Linked DNA regions of Homo sapiens. The protein of the gene in region 1 purifies or fractionates together with the protein of each later gene. This does not show direct contact. Each region holds a gene or a part of one and is shown in the gene's direction. Other genes may lie near its edges.

Evidence for each region. Proteins that work in one complex are often made in the same cells at the same time.
Region 2: the proteins of UBN2 (region 1) and HAT1 purify together in Homo sapiens (affinity purification with mass spectrometry, with the first as the bait; one large-scale study listed by BioGRID). This does not show direct contact.

Annotation. Positions count from the first base shown.
Region 1 is NC_000007.14:139,286,737-139,290,236, forward strand, and holds part of UBN2 (ubinuclein-2), read left to right. Parts: intron 1-3,500.
Region 2 is NC_000002.12:171,963,961-171,967,460, forward strand, and holds part of HAT1 (histone acetyltransferase type B catalytic subunit), read left to right. Parts: intron 1-1,377; coding exon 1,378-1,557; intron 1,558-1,826; coding exon 1,827-1,948; intron 1,949-2,448; coding exon 2,449-2,553; intron 2,554-2,882; coding exon 2,883-2,989; intron 2,990-3,500. UniProt on the Homo sapiens protein: Histone acetyltransferase that plays a role in different biological processes including cell cycle progression, glucose metabolism, histone production or DNA damage repair. Coordinates histone production and acetylation via H4 promoter binding.

The DNA of each region.
Region 1 (3,500 bases):
TCTAAGGAAGTGCTCTTTGTACTGTCTCCTATTTATGTGGAACAGGAACATGTAATGAGAAGAGTTTCCCCTTGCTGTATGTCAAGGTTTCCTGCTGTTCAATATAGTCTAAGGGTTGATATTCAATATACATTGTATATTCAAATCATCATTCTGCTACTAATGTAGGCATAGGAATGACTGGATGCCAGAATTCTAATGAAGAACAAATTCAGCTAACTGGTAATTCATTAATTGAAATCTAGGATTAACTGATGTTTTATGTATATACATTTACTTTCATCAGAAATAAAATAATAAAAACATTGATACTAGGGATTATATGTTAAAATGTATATGGAGATGGATGAATAAAGGCCTTCCCTTATGAAAAAAAAGGTATATGGAAGATTGGAGTTAGTCTGCATTACTGTTTATTAAATAGTTTACTCTTCTTAAAATTAATTCTTAATTTGATCAAAGGAATAAGTGAAAAGATAGCATAAATGGTAGTTCCCTGCCCCGTATCCTCCTCCTAGGGTTAACTACTTTTAACTCTCTCAGCATTTTCTTCTTTTTGTTTTTAAATAATAATAAATGGAAAAGTCTTGATTTTATCAATTTTATAAAAAATTGGGGAGTTATTTCTGGAATTAAAAATTCATTTTTATTTTCATTTGCTTCATTTTCTTTGAACTTAAGATTAAATCTTTCTTCATCCTTTGTCATCTCTACAGTCTGTCAGTTCTATTTTGTTCCCAGAGATCTTCCTGTATTTCATTATTGATTGCAAAAGAACCCCTATACTGTCTAACAAATAATTGGTTTGTCAGCATGAAGGCTACTTGGCAAAGTATGAGTTTCTGAAGACTAACTACTCCCTCCTGGTTTTCTTCCTCTCCCAAATGGCTTTATGATTTGGAGACTGAAGTGTTCCTGCCTTCATATCTGATCTTTTTTTTTTTTTTTTCTGTCTTACTGGTTTGACTGAAGAAAAGATTAATAATTGAATAAGGTCATTTCTACCCTTTGGCGAAAGTAAGGTTCTTTTTGTTTTAACATAGCGTCTCAATAAAGTCTTACCAGCTATCTTGTGGCCTCTAGAACCTGTCTATAGCTCTCCAACACTGAAAACAGAGTTCCTATCTATGCCTGTAAAGCATTCACCTTCTGTCTGAAAGGCATCTGTGGGTGTCTGCTCATTTGCAGAGTGAAAATGACAGGTCCTTTAACAAATGGCAAAAGTTAAACTCCTTCTGGGTTCAGGTTGTTAGCTCTGCTTGCTTTCTGTTTAATAACTTTCCACACAGGGGTTTCCTCCTCTTTCTTACCCTTCAACTTACTGATTTTCTGTGAATCCTGTCTTTGCCACTTTATAATTCCAAACATCATTCATTCATTAAGCAAATGTTTATTGAGTGTTTACTATGTGCCAGGCACTCTTCTAGGTGCTGGGGATATAGGGATGAACAGCATACTCACACATATAGTCTAGGTAGGAAGACAAGGAAAAATACAAGTTTTTTCAAAATGTGGTAAATGCTGTGAAAAAATTGTAGGATAATATGATAAAAGTGATTGCTGCTAACGTAAAAAAGGTTAAGAAGGTTTGAGGAGGTAATGTTTGATTTGAGAATTGAATGAGCAGAAGCCAGCCATGTGTAGAGAAGAGGGGGAAAATAGTTCAGGCCAGAGGGAACAGTTGTATGAAGACACTGAGATGGAAAAGAGCCTGAAGTGAAGGCCTGCATGGCTGGACCATGGGGAGAGAGTGGTAGGTGATGAGATCAGAGAGAGACCAGAACCATGTCATGGAGGACCTTGTGGACCACAGTAAGGACTTTGGATTTTATTCTCTGTGCAGTGGGAAGCTATTGGAGGTTCTTAAACAGGGGACTGATATGGTCTGATTTGCATTTCAAAAGTTTACTCTGGGCGTTGTGGGGAATAGGGGACCAGTGCACTCACCAAAGTAGAGTATGTGGTTTAAAAAAAAATTTAATTGCGGCCGGTCGTGGTGGCTCATGCCTGTAAACCCAGGACTTTGGGAGGCCGAGGTGAGCGGATCACGAGGTCAGGAGATTGAGGTCATCCTGGCCAACATGGTGAAACCCCATCTCTACTAAAAATACAAAAATTAGCTGGGTATGGTGGCACGTGCCTGTAATCTCAGCTACTTGAGAGGCTGAGGCAGGAGGATCACTTGAATCCTGGAGTTGGAGGTTGCAGTGAGCCGAGATTGCACCACTGCAGTCCAGCCTGGCAACAGAGGGAGACGCCATCTCAAAAAAAAAAAAAAAAAAAATTAATGCCCACTACGGGAAGAGCAAGGATTCCCTTCAATGTTTTTTCCCCTGGGAATAAAATGTAGAGGTCACGGAAAGTATTTTTGATTATGGGGCATAATCTGGAACTATTTACCTGCTTCATGCTGACTTCTTGTGCATGATCCCAGATGATACCAACATTGGAGTACCCCACTGCTGAAAGGTCTCCATCTTTTAGGATAGAGAGATTTGCAAATACCCATGTCACATTTAGATTATCTGATGCTTCCATTTATATTTATAAACAAATTAAAGTGGATATAGAAGTTACTTGAAAGTGTAAAATGTTAGACAGTTATGGCATAGTATCACTTTTTTGCTATACTTGAGTTATTTAATTTTGGAAATTGCCCTCCCTAATTTACATTTTGCTTTTTTTTTTTTTTTTGAGACAGGGTCTCACTCTGTTGCCCAGGCTGGAGTGCAGTGGTGCAATCTTGGCTCACTGCAGCTTCCGCCTCTAGGGTTCAAGCAGCTCTCCTGCCTCAGCCTCCAAGTACCTGGGATTACAGGCAGACGCCACCATGCCCAGCTAATTTTTGTATTTTTAGTAGAGACGGTGTTTCACCATGTTGGCCAGGCTGGTCTTGAACCCCTGGCCTCAGGTGATTCACCCAACTCAGCCTCCCAAAGTGCTGGGATAATAGGAGTGAACCATCGCACCTGGCCCTCATTTTGCATCTATTTTAATGCTTCAATTACACTCCTTCAGAAAAGCTTTAAAAGATTCCTTTTATTAACAGTATTTAATGTTCCTCACTAGGGAACTCCAACTGGGGCACACAGCCTTGGAGACTCTTTATCATCCCAAGACTGCAGTAGAATTATGATTAGAAGAAGCAACTCTGGTTAAATTTTTTTTTTTTTCCGAGACAGAGTCTTGCTCTGTTGCCCAGGCTAGAGTGCAGTGGCACAATCTCGGCTCACTGCAACCTCTGCCTCCCAGGTTCAAGCGGTTCTCCTGCCTCAGCCTCCTGAGTAGCTGGGATTACAGGCATGCGCCACCACACCTGGCTAATTTTTGTATTGTATTAATGGATTAATTATTGTAATTTTGTATTTTTAGTAGAGACCGGGGTTAGTAGAGACCACCATGTTGGTCAGGCTGGTTTCGAATTCCTGATCTCATGATCCGCCCACCTTGGCCTCCCAAAGTGCTGGGATTACAGGCATGAGCCACCGTGCCTTGCCAAC
Region 2 (3,500 bases), on another chromosome or scaffold:
TAATAGGTCTTTTTTATACCTATAAACAAATTATATATAAATGTTGGTGGTACCAGAGCATTGAAAATAAAACTTGTTTGTGATAAACGTCATCACTGGTTCTCTATCCTGAAATGTAACTGAATCATAATAAAGTGCTATTCATCTGCAGGTGCATTGCTTCTACTTAGTTAAAAGATGGTTGAAAGGATAGGAATTAGTAGCATGTTGTATTAGCCTTTTGTAGTGTATTTTGTCCTAAGCATCTTAATTTCCCTGTTTTGAATGCTAAGTAGCAAGGGTCTTGGTTTAGAACTAATACCCATCATGCATGTAAACGGTATGAAAGAGCTGCTTAGTAAGTTAACACAAAGTGTTCTTGTGTCAGTCCTTGTGGAAATAGATACAATACAAACATTACAGCTGAACTCACGGCAAACTCCATTAAGTAAAAACCTGGCCTCATTGTTCAGGAAAAAGTTTGAATAGAATACAAGCTCATTTTGTTGAATGTAATGTCAGGCTTTTAGGGACTGTATTGAGGGATAAGGTTTTGTTAAGTTGAGACCAATTCATTAAGTTTTATTGCCTGGTGAGAAGCAGCAATACTTTATTGTAAGACTTCATCAAATATTCATGGTTAAAGAGAAGTAGTAAATGTATTCAATCAAGTGGTCTTTTGGGATTTTGAAAAGGATTATGAAGTCTGCTCAGCTGATAACATTGATAGAGGTTGTTTAACAAGGGTAATTTTAATCTCCGAGTTTAGTTTTGTTGTCCAGTCTTGTCTCTTTTTTACTGTCACAAATCCAGGTCTGTAAGAATTGTGTCACATTCTAAGGATAAAAGAATGATATATCCATTCATATAATTTATGTTATTTCCTAAATATGTATATTTTTAAGTTATCATCTTAGTTTGAGTTTGGCATATGAGGGAATTGTGACCCATCTAGTTGTGAGATTGCTATTCATTTGGTCAGACTCTAGTCTCATCTCACCACTGCTGGTGATCTTTTCATGTCTTGGATAATATGATTTCTTTGACACATATAAAATAATAAGCAACCTTTTGCCTTGGCCAGTTCAGACTGTCATGAAGGGGTATAGTCAGCTGTTTCTGCATAATGGAAATGTCCATAGCATTGCCCTTATTATTGTACTTGGTATCAGGTCACCTGCCTTCTCTTATTTACTTTTATATTATGCTCATCTCAGTTTTGTGTGATGCAGTTTGTGCACAGGAAGCTCATCCTTTTCCAATTCGCTGTGTGTTTACTTCTTTAGTTTTCAACCAAAGTTTTGTAATTTGTGTTGGTTTTGTCAGTTTTAAAGAAATAAACCATATTCAACTTAAAGTCGAATTTGTTATTAATTTTTTATATCCTTTATTCTTTAGGCAGATGATGTTGAGGGCAAAATTAGACAAATCATTCCACCTGGATTTTGCACAAACACGAATGATTTCCTTTCTTTACTGGAAAAGGAAGTTGATTTCAAGCCATTCGGAACCTTACTTCATACCTACTCAGTTCTCAGTCCAACAGGAGGAGAAAACTTTACCTTTCAGATATATAAGGTAAAGATAAATCTAAATATTTATTGAGTAAAGTTCTATTTGCCTGAAACCTGTATGTAGTTTTGTTGTCAGTGATTTATTCTAACTGCAGTAAACAAGTTTTAATCAGCATTATAAACCAAGATCTATTTTGTGTGTATGTCTGTATCTATGTTCACATCTTAATCTGAGACTTCTAAACATTTTCCCACAGGATAATTTTGTGTTCTGCGGACTTTCACTTACCTTTGTGATGAGTTTCACCTGACTTTTCCTGGCTTTTTCCCTAGGCTGACATGACATGTAGAGGCTTTCGAGAATATCATGAAAGGCTTCAGACCTTTTTGATGTGGTTTATTGAAACTGCTAGCTTTATTGACGTGGATGATGAAAGATGGCACTACTTTCTAGTGTAAGTACAGTTCTAAAGCAACAGTAGACCTTATTACCTCCACAAAGCCAGCATTTTAATTGTGGCAGCCCAATTATTGGGACAGTATAATGATATTTTTCCCAGGAAAGAAAAACTATTGTTTATGAGGCTTGAGTTTTCCTTCATTATGCTTTGGGAGACCTTGAGAATAGAGCTGAATTAAATGCTGTTGTCCGTTAGGGCCCTGAATGTAGGCTTAAACAGTAAAATGAGCTTTGCCTGTGTTTTCTTTTACTTGCCACCTATTCATCTTTATAATAGGCAAGTGCACTGAAGTGATGTAAAGAGGTCTGATTTATCCAAGTTGCTGCACACCAATTAAGTGAATTGTACATTCAGAACATAGCAGGTGTACCCATTGGGCCCTCACAGAGTAGCTTGCTGACACTGAAAATTCAGTCAGAGAATGGAAAAGAAAATGGACACTGCATGGGAGCGCGACTGTAATTGACCTGCTTGGCTTTCTGTTTTATCTGCAGATTTGAGAAGTATAATAAGGATGGAGCTACGCTCTTTGCGACCGTAGGCTACATGACAGTCTATAATTACTATGTGTACCCAGACAAAACCCGGCCACGTGTAAGGTAATTGGCAGTATAACACGTGCCTTGTCTTTTATTTCAGAAGAAGGAACTGCTGAAGTTTCCAATACTTGTTATAATAGTGTTGATTTGTTTAAAAAAAAAATCACTATTATTCATGGGCTATGTACTGATTTATTTCATTGTTCCCTTTGAAACAGTGTAGAAGATTAAACTAATTTTGAGTATCTTGATAATTTTTGGGTATCTCAAAGGTGGATTGAAAAAAAGATCACACAAACTTTAAAGTGTTTGTAATACTATAGTGATCTGCAGGTTTTAAACTGGTCATGTTATGATATTTTAATTTTAAAATAATTTCTTTACTGTAGTCAGATGCTGATTTTGACTCCATTTCAAGGTCAAGGCCATGGTGCTCAACTTCTTGAAACAGTTCATAGATACTACACTGAATTTCCTACAGTTCTTGATATTACAGGTATGTAAAATTTGATTTGTTACTGAAAGAGCCTTTCTAAAAATGTCTTCTTACTGATTGATTTTATTTTTGTCAGAAATAACTATTTTAAACAGCAACATTTTCCTAGGGTGTTTAAGCCATCTAAAGATGGCTTAAGTTTATGTTTTAGAGCATAAGCCTTTGTGGGGATTGGATTACATCCCTAACTGTGAAGTGCATAATGGAACAAATTGAAGATAATGAGCTGAATATATATGGGGAAGTCTTGGTCAGGCGTAAATACGTTGAAAGTATGGTATAACTTATTTGTTCACTTTATTTGGCAAACAGTTGCATTATTTAGAGGCAGCCTGCACTTTAATTTACATGTAGGGGCAGAATATTATAAACTTTACTGAGAAAAAAAGTCAAGGTAAATACTTCTTGAATAGAATACACATTTCCTAAAGTGTGTGTTTTGTATTCCTAAAATGCATGCCTTCACAACAGTAGTAGATAAGGTGAAATGTAGGCCTATTTGTTTTGGAAA